3 linked regions of the Homo sapiens genome follow. The protein of the gene in region 1 interacts with the protein of each later gene in a biochemical or structural test. Each region holds a gene or a part of one and is shown in the gene's direction. Other genes may lie near its edges. The genes, in order: IPO5, NUP214 and NOSIP.

Region 1 (6,984 bases):
AAATACAAAAATGAGTCCAGGCGTGGTGGCTCACGCCTGTAATCCCAGCACTTTGGGAGGCCAAGGCAGGTGGATCACCAAAGGTCAGGAATTCGAGATCAGCTGGCTAACATGGTGAAACCCCATCTCTACTAAATATACAAAATAGCTGGGCATAGTGGCACACACCTGTAATCCCAGCTACTCAGGAGGCTGAGGCAGGAGAATCGCTTGAACCCGGGAGGTGGAGGTTGCAGTGAGCCAGGATCGCATCGCTGCACTCCAGCCTGGGTGACAGAGTGAGACTCAGTCTCCAAAAAAAAAAAAAAAAAAAAAATACAAAAATTAGCCGGGCATGGTGGCATGTGCCTGTAATCCCAGTTACTCGGGAGGCTGAGGCAGAATTGCTTGAACCCTGGAGGAGGAGGTTGCAGTTAGCTGAGATCACACCACTGCACTCCAGCCTGGGCGACAGAGCAAGACTTTGTCTCAGGAAAAAAAAAAAAAAAAAGTATCCCTGCACAAGCTCTCTTCTCCTGTCTGCCGCCATGTGAGATGTGCCTTTCACCTTCCGCCATGTTTGTGAGGCCTCCCCAGCCATGTGGAATCATAAGCCCAACAAACCTCTTCCTTTTGTAAGTTGCCCAGTCTTGGGTATGTCTTTATCATCACTGTGAAAACGGACTAATAAAGCCACAATGCAAAATATCCACCATAGTGCTCTCTATATGTGACTTTCTAGCCTACCCTTATCCACCATGGTGATTCCTATTCAGTATTCCACTGGTTGTGCCTGCTGATGAAGAAATCAATGTATATTCCCCTAAATCCTGTCTTTGGTGTAGGTTTGGAATGCCCAAGGATCAGCCAGTGCAGTCAGGTCTGCTGGCACCTTCCAAAAAACCAAGTGATATGGTTTGCCTGTGTCCCCACCCAAATTTCATCTTGAATTGTAGCTCCCATAATTCCCGTGTGTTGTGAAAGGGACCCGGTAGGAGATATTTGAACCATGGGGGCAGTTTCCCTCATACTGTTCTTGTGGTAGTGAATAAGCCTCACGAGATCTGACGATTTTATAAGAGGTTTCTCCTTTCACTTGGTTCTCATTCTCTCTTGCCTGCCACCATGTAAGATGTATCTTTTGCTTTCCACCATGACTATGAGGCCTCCCCAGCCACATGGAACTGTGAGTCCATTAAACCTCTTTTTCTTTATAAATTACCCAGTCTCAGGTATGTCTTTTTTTTTTTCTTTTTTTTTTTTGAGACCAAGTCTTGCTCTGTCACCCAGGCTGGAGTACAGTGGCACAATCTCGGCTCACTGCAACCTCCACCTCCTGGGTTCAGTGATTCTCCTGCCTCAGCCTCCCAAGTAGCTGGGACTACAGGCACCCACGACCATGCCCAGCTAATTTTTCTATTTTTAGTAGAGACAGGGTTTTGCCATGTTGGCCAGGGTGGTCTCGAACTCCTGACCTCAGCCTCCCAAAGTGCTAGGATTAGAGGCATGAGCCACTGTGCCCAGCCACGGTCTTTATCAGCAGCATGAAAACAGACTAATACACCAAGCAACTGGTCAATGTCATAGGCACTGGAGAAACTTCTCGGATTTGTTCTTTTAAAATGTTCTTCAGGAAGGGCACAATGGCTCACCCCTGTAATCCCAGCACTTTGGGAGGCCAAGGTGCTCCCAGCTCACTTGAGGCCAGGAGTTCAAGATCAGCCTAGGCAACACAGTGAGACCCTCCCCCAACGTCTACAAACATTTTTTTAGAACATTAACCAAGTATGGTGGGGCATGCAGTGAGCCATGATTGCATCACTGGACTCCAGGGTGGGTAACAGTGCAAGACTGTCTCTAAAAAAAGAACTAAAAAATAAACAAATACGTAACTAAATAAAATGTTCTTCATACATTTTGCAGTAACCTTGTAACCATTCAATCGCTGATTCTGAATCTATGTAAATTCTGGTATCAGACCCTTGGTAAGATGCTTGAGCAAAATGCCATGAAGACACCTGCCCACAAGCCAAAATGTTAGAAGTCAGGTGCAGTAGCGAGCTCCTGCAGTCCCAACCACTTGGGAGGCTGAGGCAGGAGGATCTCTTGAGCCCATAGTTCGAGACCAGCCTGGGTAACATAATGAGACCCCTGTCTCAAAAACAAAAAAAGAACCAGTGACATAGGATGAGGACGAAGAAGCAAGGAATAGTGCTGAAGAACTTTCAGGATATGCGGGGTGACACTAGAAAGTGCTTAGACATCACACGTTACCAAGAAAAAAATGTGACCTATACAAAGGAGTCTGCCCATGTCCTATGAAACAATTTAAAAATCAAAAATAGGCCGGGTGCGTTGGCTCATGCCTGTAATCCCAGCACTTTGGGAGGCCAAGGTGGGCAGATTACGAAGTCAGGAGATCGAGACCATCCTGGCTAACATGGTGAAACCCCGTCTCTACTAAAAATATAAAAATTAGCCGAGCATGGTGGCGCGTGCCTGTAATCCCAGCTACTTGGGAGGCTGAGGCAGAAGAATCGCTTGAACCAGAGAGGCAGAGGTTGCAGTGAGCTGAGATCACACCAGCCTGGGCAACAGAGAGAGACTCTGTATCAAAAAAAAAAGAAATAAATAATTACAAAAATGGAGTTTGGCTTTAATTAATGATCTGAATTAATAAAAACAACAAAATGCTAGGCCAGCGCAGGGGATCATGCCTGTAATCCCAGCACTTTGAGAGGCCGAGGCAGATGGATCACTTGAGGTCAGGAGTTCAAGACCAGCCTGGCCAACGTGGTGAAACCCCATCTGTACTAAAATACAAAAATTATTCGGGCATGGTGGTGGGCACCTGTAATCCCAGCTACTTGGGAGGCTGAGGCAGGAGAATTTCTTGAACCCGGGAGGTGGAGGTTGCAGTGAGCCGAGATCACGCCACTGCACTCCAGCCTGGGCAACAGAGTGAGAATCTGTCTCAAAAAAAAAAGAAAAGCTAAATGTACAAAGCTAGGGCATTGAGATCCATGAGAATACAGGGCAAAATTGATGTTAATCTGTCATATAAAAATTTAATTACATCCCATAAATATCTGCAATTTTTTATTGTTTATTTTTTGAGACAAGGTCTCACTCTGTTGCCCAGGCTGGAGTGCAGTGGTGCAATCACAGCTCACTGCAGCTTCAACCTCCCCCGGCTCAGATGATCCTCCCACTTCAGCTTCCTGAGCAGCTGGGACTACAGGTGTGCACTGCCACACGCATCTAATATTTGCATTTTTCATAGAGATGGGGTTTTGCCATGTTGCCAAGACTGGTCTTGAACTCCTGAGCTCAAATGATCCTCCCACCTCGGCCTCCCAAAGTGCTGGAATTACAGGCATGAGCCACCCCGCCCAGCCAATATTTATAATTATTACATGTCAACTAAAATAAAAGAAAAAGTAATTTAATCACAAACCCAGTTGACATAAACGTATGTAATATGGAATTTCCTGTTGTTTCCATACAAATTTATCTTTGTCTATTTGAGAGATCAATTTCTCTTTTCAGTATTGAGTAGTGAATAGAATCAAAATCTGTGGGTAAAGAAGCTACTCAGACAGTTTCAAAACTGAATTTGATGACACATTTGTACCCAATCTGAGTGGCCCCCAGCAACATGGGTTTTGAGTTCTCAAAGGCCAATAGATAGCTCCCTTTCCTTTCCACAGCTTTGGGAGCTTGGGCTACCCTGTAACGTCTAAATGCCTGTGCAGTGTGGGCCTGTGAAGCTGGCAGGGTGGGCAGTGTAAATGCCCACTAGCAGGAGCCAGCTGACCTCCTGCGTGTCACAATAGCAGCCAGGTGTCTCCACGGTGACGTCTCTGAGCCAGGAGGTCAGAACTGTGGGATTGATGACCTCCCACAACTGGAGCAGCCGGGAACAGCTCTGACCACAGTAAGTCATCCCAAAACCTCACATTCAGATGAAACCATTTAAGAATTTCATCTGCACTGAGGAACAATTTAGCGTGATACTGGAGGGAAAGAGTTTCCCTGTGAGATCCAGGAGGTCCCTTTAGCTCGTCTCCTGACGTCACCACAGTCATACCCAAGAGGAAGGAAACGTCAGAGACAATGATTTGGAGAACATTCTACACAAAAACCAAGTATGAAACAATGACGATTTCATGATGGCTCATTGTTCTTTGGTATTGTGCCTTACGTGAGCTGGGGACTAACTCTGTATCCTTAAGGAGGCATCACTTGATTAGAGTTGCCCAAAAGAATGTGGGTTATTATCCTAAAGGTCTGTGTTGCCATCCTGAAACAGTCAGAAATCAGTTTTTATTTCACTTAGGTGGTTCCGGGGAGAAGCCTTTCCAGGACCCATGTGTAGGCACAACTGTTTTCCCTGATCAGGATACTTGCGGCACTCAAGTGAGTCTAGAATTATCAGATTTTGTTCTGTCTCTCTTCACTGTGAATTCTATTCTTTATTTCCTTTAAAACAAAAAGCTCCTGCTATTTTCTCCTATAATTATGATATCTGTTTCTTGATCATTTTACCTTCTATTCACCAATTAATTGAAATCCAACCCATCAGGATTATCTACCCTGCTTTCCTATAGGGAGAATAAAAAGTGCTTAGAAGCAGTATGATTTTCACTGCCTTTAATTTCTCAAATCCCAAGATGTTCCATTTAAAATCTTTAGAGTATCTATTTTGTCTTCTGTACATTATGGTTGTATTCCCTCAGAGGCCGAGTATATTTTATCTTAGTTTTCAGAGATCACTAAAGTCAAGTAAATGAAGGAAAACAGAATTCATTTTCATTATGGGAAAACAAAATCAATCCCTAAGTAGTCAAAAGATTACTTACTTAAGGAACCACCTGGTTAACTTCTTCTCCTAGAACTTAATCCCCTAACTAGGGGTAAAAAAGGCTCATTGTCATCTTATAAAGTATTAGATACCAGGGACTTGTCAAATGCTAATGCCTTTATTATAGAATGTTTAATTTAGACCTTCCTAAACAGTTTTGCTTTCTTCCGTCATTTGTCTGTGATGGAACCTCAAAGACACTAACTAGTATGCGAGACAGATTTGTGTTGGAACATTGTGTTAGCTTTCCAGTAGAGTTAAAACTCTGGAATGCAATTATAAACCTCCAAATGAAAAATACCGGCCGGGCACAGTGGCTCACACCTATAATCCCAGCACTTTGGGAGGCTGAGGTGGGAGGATCACTTGGGCCTAGGAGTTTAAGGTCAGCCTAGGCAACATAGTGAGACCCTGTCTCTACAAAATATAGAAAAAAGTAGCCAGTTATGGCAGAATGCATCTGTAATTCCAGGGACTCAGGAGGCTGAGGTGAGAGGATTCCTTGAGCTGGGGAGGTCAAGACTGCAGTGAGCCATGACTGTGCCACTGCACTCCAGCCTGGGTGACAGAGTGGGACCCTATCACGAAAAAAAAAAAAGAAAAATACCTAAGTGGCCAAATACCTTATAAAGTTCATGCATGCTACTCTACAGGAAATATCCTCAGCTGTCTTCTCTGTGCTGAGTTCATATACTCTTGTGCCTAGTTCATACATGCTTGGTCATCTGCCTTCCAAAGCACACAGCAAACCAGATGATGAGAGCAGCTGACAAGTGGAGACAGTTGTCATTTTATGTTGGCAGCTACAATAAATGACACTGTCTGATGGAGAAAATGAGCGGGGAAAACACTTCCAAAACACAGGCAGAAATATAAGAGTTGAAATCCCAGAGTTCCAGAACAATTTCACCTCAGGGCAAGCAAGCCTAAGTGGCCTGTGTATCCACCACTCTACCACAACCCAGTGACATAACCGACTTGATGGTCCTCAGACGCCGGAGCTGGGAGGATCCCCTAGGGTGCTGCCCAACTCGCCCCAATTTACAGATGAGGAAATGGAGGCCTCAGGAAGCATTGACAGCCCAGTTCAGGATCACAGCTAGTTAAGGGGGAAGCTGCAACTACAGTCAGGATCCCCTCATCCCAAGGGCCAACTTCTATCCTATACGCCCCACTCTGGAAAGGTGAAAAATAATTCAGCATTTTGGCCAGGCGCAGTGGCTCATGCCTGTAATCCCAGCACTTTGGGAGGCCAAGGCAGGCGGATCACAAGGTCAGGAGACCAAGACCTTCCTGGCTTAACACGGTGAAACCCCGTCTCTACTAAAAATACAAAAAATTAGCCGGGCGTGGTGGCGGGCACCTGTGGTCCCAGCTACTCTGGAGGCTGAGGCGAGACAATGGCGTGAACCCGGGAGGTGGAGCTTGCAGTGAGCCAAGATCGCGCCACTGCACTCCAGCCTGGGCGACAGTGCGAGACTCCGTGTCAAAAAAAAAAAAACGAACAAAAAAAGTAAAAAATAAAAATAATAATAATTCAGTGTTTCAAAAGGTTTCAAAAGGCCAGTAAGGAATTAATACATGTTTAAAGAATTTTCTTGACAAAATGGTTGAAGGCTCATTGGTTACATTTGAGAATTAAATAAGATAAAGCATAGAAGGTTATCCCTCAAACACAGAAAGAAATCAAAATGTTGTCAGTTATTATTATAACTTAAAAATCTGATATATAAAAAAGTGCTTTTTTACAGAAGTCAGAAGAAAGTAGGTTGAGCATTTTTAATACTAATCTTTTAAATACCTTTGCTCTGCCAGAAAATTAATTTTCATAAAGCAATACATTGTTGGATCTCACCCTTAGGAAGGTCTTCCCTGGGCACCCTATTTTAACAGTACCCCATCACCTCTAGCTCTTTACTTTGATTTCGTATGCTTTATAACCTATTACCATATGAAACTAAAGATATGTATAAAATCTTTTCTCTAAAGCTTCTCCTAAAGTTCACAGCTAAAATACTATGATTTTCTTCTGGTTTTTAAATAGTCCTCTTGTTAGAAAAGATTTAGCCCTTATCCTCAATCTCACAGCCACTAAATAGTCAATTCACACAAGCCAAGTGATTTGTAAAATAGGAGTCTCT
Region 2 (7,110 bases), on another chromosome or scaffold:
GGTTAACCCTTGAAGTTTCTCTCTAGATTAAAATATGGGTTAAAAAAAAATCCTTAATTATAGAATCATAGATCTTTGAGACAGAAGGGACTTCAAGAAATTCTTTCATAACGCCATCTGCCCTAAGTTGTTATCAGGAGGCTTAGGTGACTTGCCCAAAGTCATAGATGAATACATAATGTCAAAAGTTCCTACATTTTGGATGTTCTTCCATTCCAAGCAGTTTAAGAATGATAATAATAGTGAGTGTTTATACTGACTGTGTGTGTTAGACTCTGTACTAAGTGCTTTATATGCCTTGTCCCTCGTTCATGCCTACCACAGCCTTATGTAGTAGGTACTATTATCTTCATTTTATAGGTAGAGAAACAGGCTCAGAGTTTAAGTAACTGTCCAAGGTCCCAACATTATTAAGAAGCAGAGCCAAGATTTTAATCTATTGTCTGCTATTTATTGGTTATTTTGCAATTGTGCATTCCCCTTCTGAGAGTCCCCCTAAGCATGTTAGAATAATTGATTGCCATTTTCAAAGTTGTGTTGAAATTGTCTATAGCAAATAGATTGATGCATAAAACAATCTTTTTTTATGGTTATGGAGAAAAATAAACTGATTTGAGATACCTTGTGTATTCAGTAATTTCCATTGAATATTAAATGTTTCTGCATTTACTATTTGTTAACTTATTTCACTTTTGCATATTTGTTTTAAAAGGCTAAACAGCAAAAACGCCCATTTGCCTATCATAAGCTTTTGAAAGATGCAGGAGGCATGGTGATTGATATGAAGTGGAACCCCACTGTCCCCTCCATGGTGGCAGTTTGTCTGGCTGATGGTAGTATTGCTGTCCTGCAAGTCACGGAAACAGTGAAAGTATGTGCAACTCTTCCTTCCACGGTAGCAGTAACCTCTGGTGAGTAATAAAGGCTTTCACACTGTAGCATACAATCATGGTCATCTACTTAAGAATTGATTTCTAGAAGTGAAAGTGGATAGCTTTTTGTGTTTTGGTTTTTTTTTTCATGACGAGGGAGGTTAAGGATGGAAGGTATTCTTTTTTGAGACAGTCTCACTGTGTCGCCCAGGCTGGAGTACAGTGGCATCATCTCAGCCACTGCAACCTCCACCTCCTGGGTTCAAGCAATTCTCGTGCCTCGGCCACCCAAATAGCTGGGATTATAGACATGCGCCACCATGCCCAGCTAATTTTTGTATTTTTTGTAGAGACAAGGTTTCACCATGTTGGCCAGGCTGGTCTTGAACTCCTGACCTCAAGTGATCTGCCCTCCTCCACCCCGCATATGCTAGGATTACAGGTGTGAGGCACTGTGCCCGGCTGAGAGTATTCTTTATACCCATAGTTAATGTCCTTGAAGCCAAACAGCATACATAATTTAACCTGAATGTACTTGGGATTTCTGGAGAAATATTTTGGTACAGCTGGTTTAGAAGTGTTTTTTGGGAATAATTGTTTCTGGATCTGTAACGGTGGTACTCTGAAAGTCATTTGTACCTTTGGGCGGAAAAGCATTTTAAATATTAAATGGGAGCAGGAGAATGATTTCTGGTTTTGTTTTTTTTTTTTTGTTTTTTTTTTGAGACAGAGTCTTGCTCTGTCGCCCAGGCTGGAGTGCAGTGGCGCGATCTCAGCTCACTGCAACCTCCACCTGCTGGGTTCAAGCAATTCTCTTGCCTCAGACTCCAGAGTAGTTGGGATTACAGGTGCCTGCCACCATGCCCAGCTAATTTTTGTATATTTTAGTAGAGACGGGGTTTCACCATGTTGGCCAGGCTGGTCTTGAACTTCTGACCTCAAGTGATCCGTCCGTCTCATCCTCCCAAAGTGCTGGGATTACAGGCATGAGCCACTGTGCCCGGCCAGTGATTTCTTGGTATTTGGAAACCTTCTCTGTTCTCCTTGTCTTATGTAAAGACTACAGAGTTTTCTGTATTTTGCAGCTTTCTGGGCAGTAATCTATTGAAAAAGCATTTTTAGCTTTCAATTCAATAGCCCAGTGATAAATCAATTGGCTTATATCGTTAAAATGATTTTACTTTTTTCCACTTTGCCTGATAGAGATGATCCTACAATCTTCCATGGACTGACAGAGGAATGAGAATTGATAATTAGCTGTGTGTGATAGATCTTATTGGTTTGCTCCATTTTCTTGTTTTCATTTGGTAATACTGTCTTTGCTCAGTGTGCTGGAGCCCCAAAGGAAAGCAGCTGGCAGTGGGAAAACAGAATGGAACTGTGGTCCAGTATCTTCCTGTAAGTTCTTATCTTGAACTTCAGAATTTTTCTTAAGTTGCCCACTTTTTTGGGGGTGGTTTGGGAGTATCTTTCTTGTTTTTCCTATTAAAAAGTAATTTATACTCATTGTAACAAATCCATCAGTGAATGAAGAGTGGAACTCTTCCCTTTCCCATAGTCCTTCTTCCAGAGGCACCCACTATGTTGTGTTGAGTAGATAGCCTTCCATACTTTTCTGGATGTTATACAAATAGTCTATGGGTAGCTGCTTTTTTTTTGTTGTTGTTTTTATGTAAAATGTGATCATACGCTATGCGCTGTTCCCCACCTTTTTCAGTCCATTCCATAAAAACAGCTCAAGGGAAAAGAGTTAGTGAAAAAACTATGATGATAATGCAGAATCACTCTGGGTTAAAGCACAGTATTTGTCTTTTAACTGAGTCTGTCTTTAAAGGTCTGTTTGTCTAACTATGGGCACCAAAGAAAATGGATACTCTTGTTGCATGTGCACTCTGTCATCCTCCCTGTGAATTTCTTGAAATAATGTTCACAAATATCCTTCAATATCAATTGAGTTGCAAGGAACCCCCATATGTCTATTGAGCCTGGACACGAAGGAGGGATTCACAGGTGGTGCTAAGGCCTTTCTTGTGCCTTCCTCCTCAAGACTGTTCTCTGGCGAGGAGGGGAGCAGAGTGGTGAATGTAGGTGGTATAGGTTTAAGGTTAAGGTTATGTTTCTTATTTGTTATTACCAAAAGTTACCTGAAATTTGGTACATAATCTTTTAGGACACTAACCTGTAAAAAGATAATGCAATTTTTTAAATTTTCTTGCTTTGCTGTTTGCCTTAATTTTTTATTTATTTATTATTATTTTTTTTTGAGAGATGGTCTTGCTCTGTTGCCCAGGCTGGGGTGCAATGGTGTGATAACGTAATGGTTCACTGCAGCCTCAGCCTCCTGGGCTCAGGTGATCCTTCCACTTCAGCCTCCCGGGTAGCTGAGACTACAGGCACTTGCCACCATGCACAGCTAATTTTTGTATTTTTTGTAGAGATAGGGTTTTGCCATGTTGCCCAGGCTGGTCTCAAACTCCTGGGCTCAAGCAGTGTGCCCACCTTGGCCTTCCAAAGTGCTGGGATTACAGACATGAGCCACCTCGCCCAGCCTTATTCCACTATTGATGATTGTCTGCATCAGTGCTAGTGGCGTTGCTGCTGCAAATGGTGTTGCATTGACTACTCTCATTACCTATATCTGAACATGTTCATGCGTTCATGCGTTTCTTTTCTTTTCTTTCTTTTTTTTTTTTTTTTGGAGACCAAGTTTTGCTTTTGTCACCCAGGCTGGAGTGCAATGACGTGATTTCAGCTCACCGCAACCTATGCCTCCTGGGTTCAAGCAGTTCTCCTGCCTCAGCCTCCCGAGTAGCTGGGATTACGGCACCCGCCACCACACCCAGCTATGTATTTTTAGTAGAGACGGGGTTTCGCCATGTTGGCCAGGCTAGTCTCGAACTCCTGACCTCAGGTGATCCACCTGCCTCGGCCTCCCAAAGTGTTGAGATTACAGGCATGAGTCACCACACCCAGCCACGTTCATGGGTTTCTGTAGGATGAAGTCCTGGAAGTAGATAGCACTATTCTGTTTCTTCAGTCTCTCCCGGCCAAGGAGATGGAACAGGTAGCATCTAAGGAATAGATTAGATTTGACAGTTTGATTGGTTTAGGATTTGTTTCATTTGATACTTTATTTTCCCCTCCAAATCTCTTTCAGACTTTGCAGGAAAAAAAAGTCATTCCTTGTCCTCCGTTTTATGAGTCAGATCATCCTGTCAGAGGTAACAACTGCTTTTCTTATTGGGCTGACCTCTAATGACATGTTATGTATATTACAGAAATTCAAAATCATGTAATGTACCTGCTCAGTGAGGTATTGGTGTTTGCTTTATGAATAATGTCACTATTTCAAACAGCTAATTAAGTCAGTGTAAATTATGGCCCTCTGGGTGACATCTGTGTTTCACGATAAATGACATGAAATGGATCCCGACTTTTTATTACAATTCTTCATAATTTGCCCTGATTATAATCCAGCAGAAAAATTACCATTTGGGGATGAGTTTGGGCTTCTTGGGTCATTGTACCTGTGCATTATATTTAGTCAATGAAATCAGGGCCTTTGATTTTTTTTTTATCCATAGTGGCTATTCCAAACATAAGCTGCTTTTTCTTGTATCTGGTTGCTGTCATTTTTATGAGCTACTGATTAAGATGTGTCTTTCAGTTCTGGATGTGCTGTGGATTGGTACCTACGTCTTCGCCATAGTGTATGCTGCTGCAGATGGGACCCTGGAAACGTCTCCAGATGTGGTGATGGCTCTACTACCGGTATGCCTGTGGAAGAAATTTCATTGTTTGAGAATTAGAGAAGTCTTCTAATAAAGCTGGAGGCTTTGATTTCAAGGGGTTTTTTTGTGTTTGTGTTTTTTTTTTTTTTTTTTGAGACAAGATCTCACTCTGTCGCCCAGGCTAGAGTGCAGTGATGCGATCTCACCTCACTGAAGCCTGGACCTCCTGGACTCAAGTGATCCTCCCACCTTAGCCTTCTGAGTAGCTGGTACTACAGGTGCACACCACTATGCCTGGCTAATTTTTTTTTTTTGGTAGAGATGGAGTTTCACCATGTTGCCCAGGCTGGTCTTGAACTCCTGAGCTCAAGTGATCTGCCCACCTAGGCTTCTCAAAGTGCTGGGATTACAGGTGTGCGTCACCGCACCTGGCCTGATTTCAGGTTCTTTTACTTACTGGCAGTGATTATGCAACTTCAGGTATAAGGTTTCCATGCTGCACCATGGGCCAGGGGTCTAAAATTGGAGTGTCCACAGCATGTTCTACTGTTATGAGGTTAAAAAAAAAATGATTTTGCTTAAGCTATAAACTATGAGTCTTGGTTAACTCGATAAATTTTAGAAAAGCAAGACAGTATCTTGATTTTTAAAATTATTTCATTTGCTCTCGAATATTTAATGCCAACAGTGTGCTAGGCACTGCTTTAAAGCTGAGTATATAGCAGTGATCAAGGTGATGGGCTTGCTTTTATGGTTTTAAGTTTGTTGTTGTTGTTAATTTTTATTTATTTTTTAGAGACAGAATCTCACTCTGTTGCCCAGGCTGGCATGTAGTGGTGCGATCACAGCTCACTACAGCCTCAAATTCTTGGGCTTAAGCCATCCTCCTGCCTCAGCCTCCCGAGTAGTTGGGACCACAGGCATGCACCAACACAGCCAGCTGTTTTTAAATTTTTCGCAGAGGTAGGGTCTTGCTTTGTTGCCCACGCTGGTCTCGGACTCCTGGCTTTAAGCAGTTCTCCCGCCTCATCTCTCAGAGCACTAGGATTACAGGTTTGAGCCACCACACCTGGCTGGTCTTACATTTTAATGGGATAGTCAATACTAAATGTGAGATCAAGGACTGATAAGAGTGATGGAGAAAATAAAGCCGTGTTAGGGATAGATGATGACTGGTATGTGTTTGAGATTGTGTGTCAAGGGAGGCCAATTTGATACTTGAAAAAGATGTCTTGTTTTTAACTCTTTTGGATTTCTAATAAGGTTGAGTTTTTGAAATATGTTTATCTAGATGCCTTATTTTAAGATTAGAGGTTTTTTCTATTCTAGGGGATAATATTAACACTAGTATTTATTAACTGCTACTTATGTTTCATGTACTGGGCTGGAAGTTTTGTATGTATCATTTCATTTTACACTTTACAGTAGCCTCTGAAGTAGGCTTAGTAGGTCTAGTATACACATGAGAACACTAAGTATCAGGAAGGTTGAAAAATCTGCATGTCTCGTGGGCAGAAAGTGGCAGAACAGAGTTTAAATGCAGTTCGGTTGATGGCCAATGTTTGTACTCCTTGTACTAAGTGCTGCCTTTATACCATGTCCGTATATCTGGACTTTGAGTAAATATTCTCATATAACTTTAAATGATTTATTATTTGAGATTCTTTTGCTGTGGGATCTGAGAAAAATTGCACATGAGAATTTTTTTTCTTGCTTTGTTCATTGTAGAAAAAAGAAGAAAAGCACCCAGAGATATTTGTGAACTTTATGGAGCCCTGTTATGGCAGCTGCACGGAGAGACAGCATCATTACTACCTCAGTTACATTGAGGAATGGTGAGCAGAGAGTCTGGACAGGGCATTCCTGCTCTCACTGGAAGATCACACCTGAGTCACCTTGTCCCATGTTGAAATCTTTTCTGATTGATTGATTGATGGATTGGCAGGGTCTCACTCCATTACCCAGGCTGGAGTGCAGTGGCACGATTGTAGCTCACAGAAGCCTGGAACTCCCAGGCTCAAGTGATCCTTCCACCTCAGCCTCCCAGATGGGACTACAAGCACATGCCACCACACCTGGCTTATTTTTAAATAAGTTTTTTGGTTTTTGTTTTTTGTTTTTAGAGATGGGATCTTGCTATGTTGCTCAGACTGGCTTCCCAAAGTACTGAGATTACAGGTGTGAGCTACCGCACCCAGCCTGAAATCTTTTCCATTACAGAGGAAAATGGAGGCTGAGATGCCTTGAACATATTTTCAGCTGATTCTTGATAATGTCTTTCTATTATTTCTGTTTCCCCAATCTTGAATTATTTATCTTAAATACATACTAATTTCAAAAATCTAATTTTCTCAATAACCCCTAGTGATGACTTACGAAAATATTGATATTCAAGGAATATATTAAAAGTTTCCTGAGAGCAGAGTTGCCCTTTGGAATGGAGATTACTCAAAGCAAAGCTTCCATCCCTCTAGCTACATTATTCTGCCTTTGGATGGCATATTGAT
Region 3 (7,110 bases), on another chromosome or scaffold:
TGGCCTCCCAAAGTACTGGGATTACAGGTGTGAGCCATCGGCGCCCAGCCAGCTACTTTATTCTTTTTATGGCTGGATAATATTCCTTTACCCAAGATATACTTCTTTTCTTTTTTTTTCTTTTTTTGAGACAGAGTCTTGCTCTGTCACCCAGGCTGGAGTGCAGTGGCGTGATCTCGGCTCCCAGGTTTGAGCGACTCTCCTGCCTCAGCCTCCCGACTAGCTGGGGCTACAGGCATGCGCTACCACGCCTAGCTAATTTTTGTATTTTTAGTAGAGATGGGGTTTCGCCATGTTGGCCAGGATGGTCTCGATTTCTTGACCTCATGATCCGCCCGCTTTGGCCTCCCAAAGTGCTGGGATTACAGGCATGAGCCACCGCGCCCCGCCTGCATGGATGTATGTTTTTATTTCTATTGGCAGTGGAATTGCTGGGTCAAAAGGTGACTATTTAACCTTTTGAGAAACTGTGACTTTTCCAGAATGGCTGTACCATTTTACATTTCTACCACCAATGTATAAGGGTTCCAGTTTCTCCATATCCACACCAGCACTTATTATTTATCTTTTTGATTATAGTCATTCTAGGGGGTGTGAACTGGTGTCTTTTAACATGCTTATTGGCCATTTGTAGATCTTTGAAGAACTGTCTATTCCAATCCTTTACCCATTTTCAAATTGTGTTAGGTGTCCTTTCATTATTGAGTTGTAAGTTTTTAATATATTCTCACTGCAATTCCCTTATCAGATATCCTGATTTTTTTTTTTTTTTTTTTTTTTTTGAGACAGAGTTTCACTCTTGTTGCCTAGGCTGGAGTGCAATGGTGCGATCTTGGCTCATCACGACCTTCGCCTCCCAGGTTCAAGTGATTGTCCCATTTCAGCCTCCCGAGTAGCTGGGATTACAGGTATGCACCACCACGCCCAGCTAATTTTGTATTTTTAGTAGAGATGGGGTTTCTCCATGTTGGTCAGGCTGGTCTCGAATTCCCAACCTCAGGTGATCCGCCCACCTCGGCCTCCCAAAGTGCTGGGATTACAGGTGTGAGCCACCTCACCTGGCATTTTTTTTTTTTTCCCCAGAGACAAGGTCTCACTCTGTCACTCAGTCTGGAGTGCAGTGGTGCAGTGGCACGATCATAACTCACTGCAGCCTCAACCTCCTGGGATCAAGTGATCCTCCTGCCTCAGCCTCCCAAGTAGCTGGGACCACAGGCGCATGCCACTATGCCCGGCTAATTTTTTAAATTTTGTTTTGTGGAGATGGAGTCTTGCTATGTTGCCCATAGCAAGTTCAAGTCTGGTCTCAAAAACCATGCTGCTGCTGCTTTTTTTTGGTAGAGACAGGGTTTTGGCATGTTGCTCAGGCTGGTCTTGAACTCGTGAGTTCAAGTGATCCTCCTGCCTTTGCCTCCCAAAGCACCCTATCCAGGTATGAGCCACAACAGCCAGGAGATATCTGACTTTTGTAACTGCTACCTGTTTTTGTTCAGCCTGCAAACTAAAAATGGTTTTTAACATTTTTTTTTTATAAGATGGAGTCTCGCTCTGTCGCTCAGGCTGGAGTGCAGTGGCGTGATCTCCGCTCACTGCAAGCTCCACCTCCCGGGTTCATGCCATTCTCCTGCCTCAGCTTCCGGAGTAGCTGGGACTACAGGCGCCCGCCACCACGCCCGGCTAATTTTGTTTTTGTATTATTAGTAGAGACGGGGTTTCACCGTGTTAGTCAGGATGGTCTCAATCTCCTGACCTCACGATCTGCCCGCCTTGGCCTCCCAAAGTGCTGGGATTACAGGCGTGAGCCACTGCGCCTGGCCTGGTTTTTAACGTTTTTACATAACTGGAAAAAACCAAAAGAATGAATTTGGTGACCTATGACAATTATATGTGATTCCGTGTCAGAGTCTAAAAGTAAAGTTTTATTGGAACACAGCCATGCCCGTTTGTGTGTCTGTGGCTGCTTTTATGCTACAGGGGCTGAGTGGAGTACTTACAGGGGCTGTTTGGCCTGCAAAGTTCAAAACATTTACTCTCTGGCCCTTTTTTGTTATTCCCTGCTATATCCTCTGACTTCCTAGAATCAGGAAATTGAATGTAAAGACTTGATTAAATTTCCATTCAGCTGTCAGGTGATTACTTCAGAGCTGGTCGCTTCATGTTGCATACTGCCTGGGTGCCCCATTTTCAGGGGTAGTGAAATTCATTCAGGCTCAGGCAGCATTATAGACTGAATGTCCCCCCCAGATTCGTATATTGAAGCCCTAATTCCCCAAGGTGATTATATTTGGAGGTAGGGCCTTTGTGGAGATAATTAAGGTGAAAGAGTGGGGCCCTAATCTGATGGATTGGTGTCCTTATAATAGGAGGAGGCTGCGCATGGTGGCTCATGCCTATAATCCCAGCACTGTGGGAGGCCAAGGCAGGTGGATCACATGAGATCAGGAGTTCAAGACCAGCCTGGCCAACATGGTGAAACTCTGTCTCTACTAAAAATACAAAAATGAGGCCGGGCGCAGTGGCTCACGCCTGTAATCCCAGCACTTTGGGAGGCCGAGGTGGGCAGATCACGAAGTCAGGAGATAGAGACCATCCTGGCTAACGTGGTGAAACCCCCTCTCTACTAAAAATACAAAAAAATTAGCCGGGCATGGTGGCGGGCGCCTGTAGTCCCAGCTACTCGGGAGGCTGAGGCAGGAGAATGGCATGAACCCTGGAGGCAGAGCTTGCAGTGAGCCGAGATCACGCCACTGCACTCCAGCCTGGGTGACAGAGCGAAACTCCGTCTCAAAAAAAAAAAAAAAAAATTAGCCAGGCATGGTGGTGGACGCCTGTAATCCCAGCTACTTAGGAGGCTGAAGCAGGAGATTCACTTGGGCCTGGGAGGCGAGATCCGCCGCTGCACTCCAACCTAGGTGACAAAGTGAGACTCCTCCCAAAAAACAGAAGGAGACACCAGAGAGCTTTCTCTCTGCCACTGAAGATAGCCATCTGCAAACCAGGAAGAGGGTGTCACCAGAACCCCACAATGCTGGTAGCCTGAACTTAGACTTCCAGCCTCAGGAACTGGAGAAAATAGGTCTGTTGTTTAAGCCACCCAGAGTGGTGTTTTGTTATGGCAGCTGGAGCAGACTGAGACAGGTGGCAGCCATCGAAAACCGCATTGTAAAGCTACAACTGTGTATTTTCCAGTAGCAAGAATTAGCATCCTGTGACTATCCAGGCCCCATCAGCCTCTCCTTTAATGCCATCCATCAACAATCATTGCCTGAGTCAGCTATTTCACCAGAGGTTGCAAAATGGCAGTTTTCCTATTCTCCCATTTCTCTTACACTTAGTCTGAATAATTTGGTTTTTGTCTTGAGTCATGTCCAAGAAGCAGTTGAAGAGAGTGACTTAATCAAACTTCCATTCTGAAAAGCCCCCCTGAGGCTGGTTTGTCAAGGAATAGACTGAGGAAGAGGCCAATTTCTCCAAGCTTCAATTTTCCTACCTATTAAATGAGCAAGACTGGGCGCGGTAGCTCATGCCTGTAATCCCAGCACTTTGGGAGGCCGAGGTAGTAGATCACCTGAGGTCAGGAGTTCAAGACCCAGCCTGGCCAACATGGTGAAACCCCGTCTCTACTAAAAATACAAAAAAAGTATCTAGGCATGGTGGTGTGTGCTTGTAATCCCAGCTACTTGGGAGGCTGAGGCAGGAGAATCACTTGAACCTGGGAGGTGGAGGTTGCAGTGAGTCAAGATCGTGCCACTGCACTCCAGTCCGGGTGACAGAGTGAGACTCCGTCTCCAAAAAAAAAAAAAAAAAAATACTTCAGTCCTGGTGACAGTGAGACTGTCTCCAAAATAAATACATACATACATACATACATACATAAAATAAAATAAATGGGCAGAACGTGGGGAGGTTGTCATGAGGACCGAATGTGTTCACATGTGGAAAGTGCTTCCCACAAGGTCTGATTCTTAAGGGGTTGAAGGATGTGATGATTACTTCTGTTCTTCCAGTGCTTCTGTGATTCACATGTTACTAATGAATTATTAGTGTATTAATGGCATGATGTCATGGCTGCATGGTTAGTTCATTGCTAACCCACCTCCCCTGGCCCTAGGATTGGAGGTGGTTCATTGATTCTATCATGACATCTCTGAGACCTCCCAGGTGCCAGGCAATGCTGGGACCCAGGCTGAAGTTCAACCCAGGCCCCACCAACCAGGGCCCCTACTCTGGAGCCGAAATACCGAGGGACGGGCTGTAACGGAGGTAGCTCAGGGCACGGTCAAGTGCAAGGAGAACCTAACTGATCCCGGAGAGGCAGGCTTCTTGGAGGAGGCAAACCTTGGCAGTGCTCTGGAGGAGAAAGGAGACAGGATTTCAGGGGAGGACAAGACACACACTAGCTGTCTGATCCACTCCCAGAGTTCAGCACAGTGCCTGAGGCCGCCTGCAGCCAGCTGGCACAGTGGATGGTCAAAGCCACAGGTGCTTGGATCAAACACAGCTGTAGGACTCACTAGCTGCATAACCTAGGGCACCGCCTCTGTGCCTCTCTTCATTTATAGCAACTATTTGAGGTGCTGTGATATTCAGTGGAGTGTTGTGATATTCGACCGTTTGAGGTGTTATGATATTCAGTAAAATGCTTAGAGCCAGGGTCTGCTTCAGAGCCGGGCTTTTTTTTTTTTTTTTTTTTTGAGACACAGTCTTGATCTGTTGGCCAGGCTGGAGTGCAGTGGCCCGATCTTGGCTCACTGCAACCTCTGCCCCCAGGTTCAAGCGATTCTCCTGCCTCAGCCTCCCGAGTAGCTGGGACTACAGGCACCTGCCACCACACCCAGCCAATTTTTGCATTTTTAGTAGAGACAGGGTTTCGCCACATTGGCCAGGCTGGTCTTGAACTCCTGACCTCAGGTGATCTGCCCGCCTTGGGCTCCCAAAGTGCTGGGATTACAGGCGTGAGCCACTGCTCCCAGCCATATATATATATATATTTTAAAGTATCTCCAATGAAAATTTAGCATCTGATGGCCAGGCCAATGTGGTGAAACCCCATCTGTGCTAAAAATACAAATATAAAAATACAAAAATGAGCTGGGCATGGTGGCACACGCCTGGAATTCCAGTTACTTGGGAGGCTGAGGCAGGAGAATGGCTTGAGCCCTGGAGGTGGAGGTTGCAGTGAGCCAAGATTGCACTATTTTGCACTCCAGACTGGGCAACAGAGCGAGACTCTGTCTCAAAAAAAAAAAAAAAAAAAAAAGGCTGGGTGCAGTGACTCATGCTTGTAATCCTAGCACTTTGGGAGGCTGAGGCGGGTGGATCACCTGAGGTCAGGAGTTCGAGACCAGCCTGCCCAACATGGCGAAACCCCATCTCTACTAAAAATACAAAAAATTAGCCAGGCATGGTGGCGGGTGCCTGTAATCCCAGCTACCTGGAAGGCTGAGGCAGGAGAATCACTTGAATCGGGGAGGTGAAGGTTGCAGTGAGCCGAGATCACACCACTGCACTCCACCCTAGGTGATAAAAGCGAAACTCCATCTCAAAAAAAAAAGAAAAAAAAAAGAAAATTTAGCATCTGAATTACTGAAATTACTGAGATGTGCTGAAAGAGTAAAATACATTCTGGATTTCAAAGGCTACAAATAAAGGAATGGATTGGCTTTTTTTTTTTTTTTTTTTTGAGACAGAGTCTCACTCTGTCGCCAGGCTGAAGTGCAGTGGTGCGATCTGGGCTCACTGCAACCTCCACCTCCTGGGTTCAAGCGATTCTTCTGCCTCAGCCTCCCGAGCAGCTGGGACCACAGGCGCGCACCAACACACCCAGCTAATTTTTGTATTTTTAGTAGAGATGGGGTTTCACCATGTTGGCCTGGATGGTCTCAACATCTTGACCTTGTGATCCACCCGTCTCAGCCTCCCAGAGTGCTGGCATTACAGGTTTAAGCCACCGTGGCCAGCCTGATTGGCCTTTTTTCTGAGATTGTGACTTTCCTAGGAAAACTGACAGTTGTCACCTAGTTAAAAGGAATGGCTCCAGAGCCTGGCTGCCTGGGTCTGAGTCCCAGCTCTGCCATTTCCCAGCTGGGACATGCTGTGAGCCTGTTTCCTGTGCTGTGAGGTAGGGATTATGCTGACATCGGTCGCTCCTGCTCTTTGCCTGTTTCCTCTCTGAAATGCTGGTGACAGCAGATGGCAGCAGTCTGCTTTGTAGTTTGAAATTGGACCTACCAAAGAGACAATATAGTGTGGGGCAGGAGAGCTCAGCTTTCAGAGTTTGTAAATCCTGAAACTGGCTATTCTTCCACCCTTGGTTGGAGGCGCTCACGCTTTCTGGTCTCAGGATCTTAAAAATCACTGAGTTTTAAAAATCAAAGAGTTTGCCGGGTGCAGTGGTTCATGCCCGTAATCCTTGCACTTTGGGAGGCTGAGGTGGGCGGATCACTTGAGATCAGGAGTTCAGAACTAGCCTGGCCAACATGGTGAAACCCTGTCTCTACTAAAAAATACAAAAAAAAAAAAAAAAAAATTAGCTGGGCGTGGGCGCCTGTTATCTCAGCTACTTGGGAGTCTGAGGCAGGAGAATTGCTTGAACCCAGGAGGTGGAGGTTGCAGTGAGCCGAGATCACACCACTGCACTCCAGCTTCGGCAACAGAGCAAGACTCCATCTCAAAAAAAACAAATTAAATTAAAAAAAGTTTAAATGCTCCCTCTATAGGTGTTCCTCCTATTTTTGGAGGGAAAATGTCCCCATCTATGTAGAAACCTCAGTTCTTGGCCACAAAACAGCAAGCAAGCTCATCTCTGGGAAAGCCGAGGTGCCCAGAGCCAAATACTGCAGAGGGTCAAGGGAGTTGACAACTAAGAATAGAGTGGGGAATGTGTCCATGAAAAGGTCACCGTGACCTTCATGAGTGGCAGTTGTGGGGGCTGGGGAGCGGATGGCAGGTGAGGGGAGGCAACAGGTGTTGGACGTTCACTGAGAAGCTTGGGGGTCAGGGGGAAGTCGGAGGAGGAGCCTGGCATGTGGAGGGGACCCTGGGTCAAGTTGGGGTGTTTGATCAAGGTCGCCCTTCTGCAAGCAGCCCTGGCTGCCTCAGGGGGCACAT

The links.
Region 2: the proteins of IPO5 (region 1) and NUP214 form a complex in vitro, tested with the Homo sapiens proteins (one study listed by BioGRID).
Region 3: the proteins of IPO5 (region 1) and NOSIP form a complex in vitro, tested with the Homo sapiens proteins (one study listed by BioGRID).

What each region holds. Positions count from the first base shown.
Region 1 is NC_000013.11:97,949,801-97,956,784, forward strand, and holds the start of IPO5 (importin-5), read left to right. Parts: upstream 1-3,874; 5' UTR 3,875-3,916; intron 3,917-4,302; exon of another isoform or gene 4,303-4,318; 5' UTR 4,319-4,398; intron 4,399-6,984. UniProt on the Homo sapiens protein: Functions in nuclear protein import as nuclear transport receptor. Serves as receptor for nuclear localization signals (NLS) in cargo substrates.
Region 2 is NC_000009.12:131,128,567-131,135,676, forward strand, and holds part of NUP214 (nuclear pore complex protein Nup214), read left to right. Parts: intron 1-712; coding exon 713-911; intron 912-2,199; coding exon 2,200-2,270; intron 2,271-4,029; coding exon 4,030-4,093; intron 4,094-4,539; coding exon 4,540-4,643; intron 4,644-6,331; coding exon 6,332-6,438; intron 6,439-7,110. UniProt on the Homo sapiens protein: Part of the nuclear pore complex. Has a critical role in nucleocytoplasmic transport.
Region 3 is NC_000019.10:49,570,557-49,577,666, reverse strand, and holds part of NOSIP (nitric oxide synthase-interacting protein), read left to right. Parts: intron 1-789; exon of another isoform or gene 790-908; intron 909-2,682; exon of another isoform or gene 2,683-3,076; intron 3,077-7,110. UniProt on the Homo sapiens protein: E3 ubiquitin-protein ligase that is essential for proper development of the forebrain, the eye, and the face. Catalyzes monoubiquitination of serine/threonine-protein phosphatase 2A (PP2A) catalytic subunit PPP2CA/PPP2CB.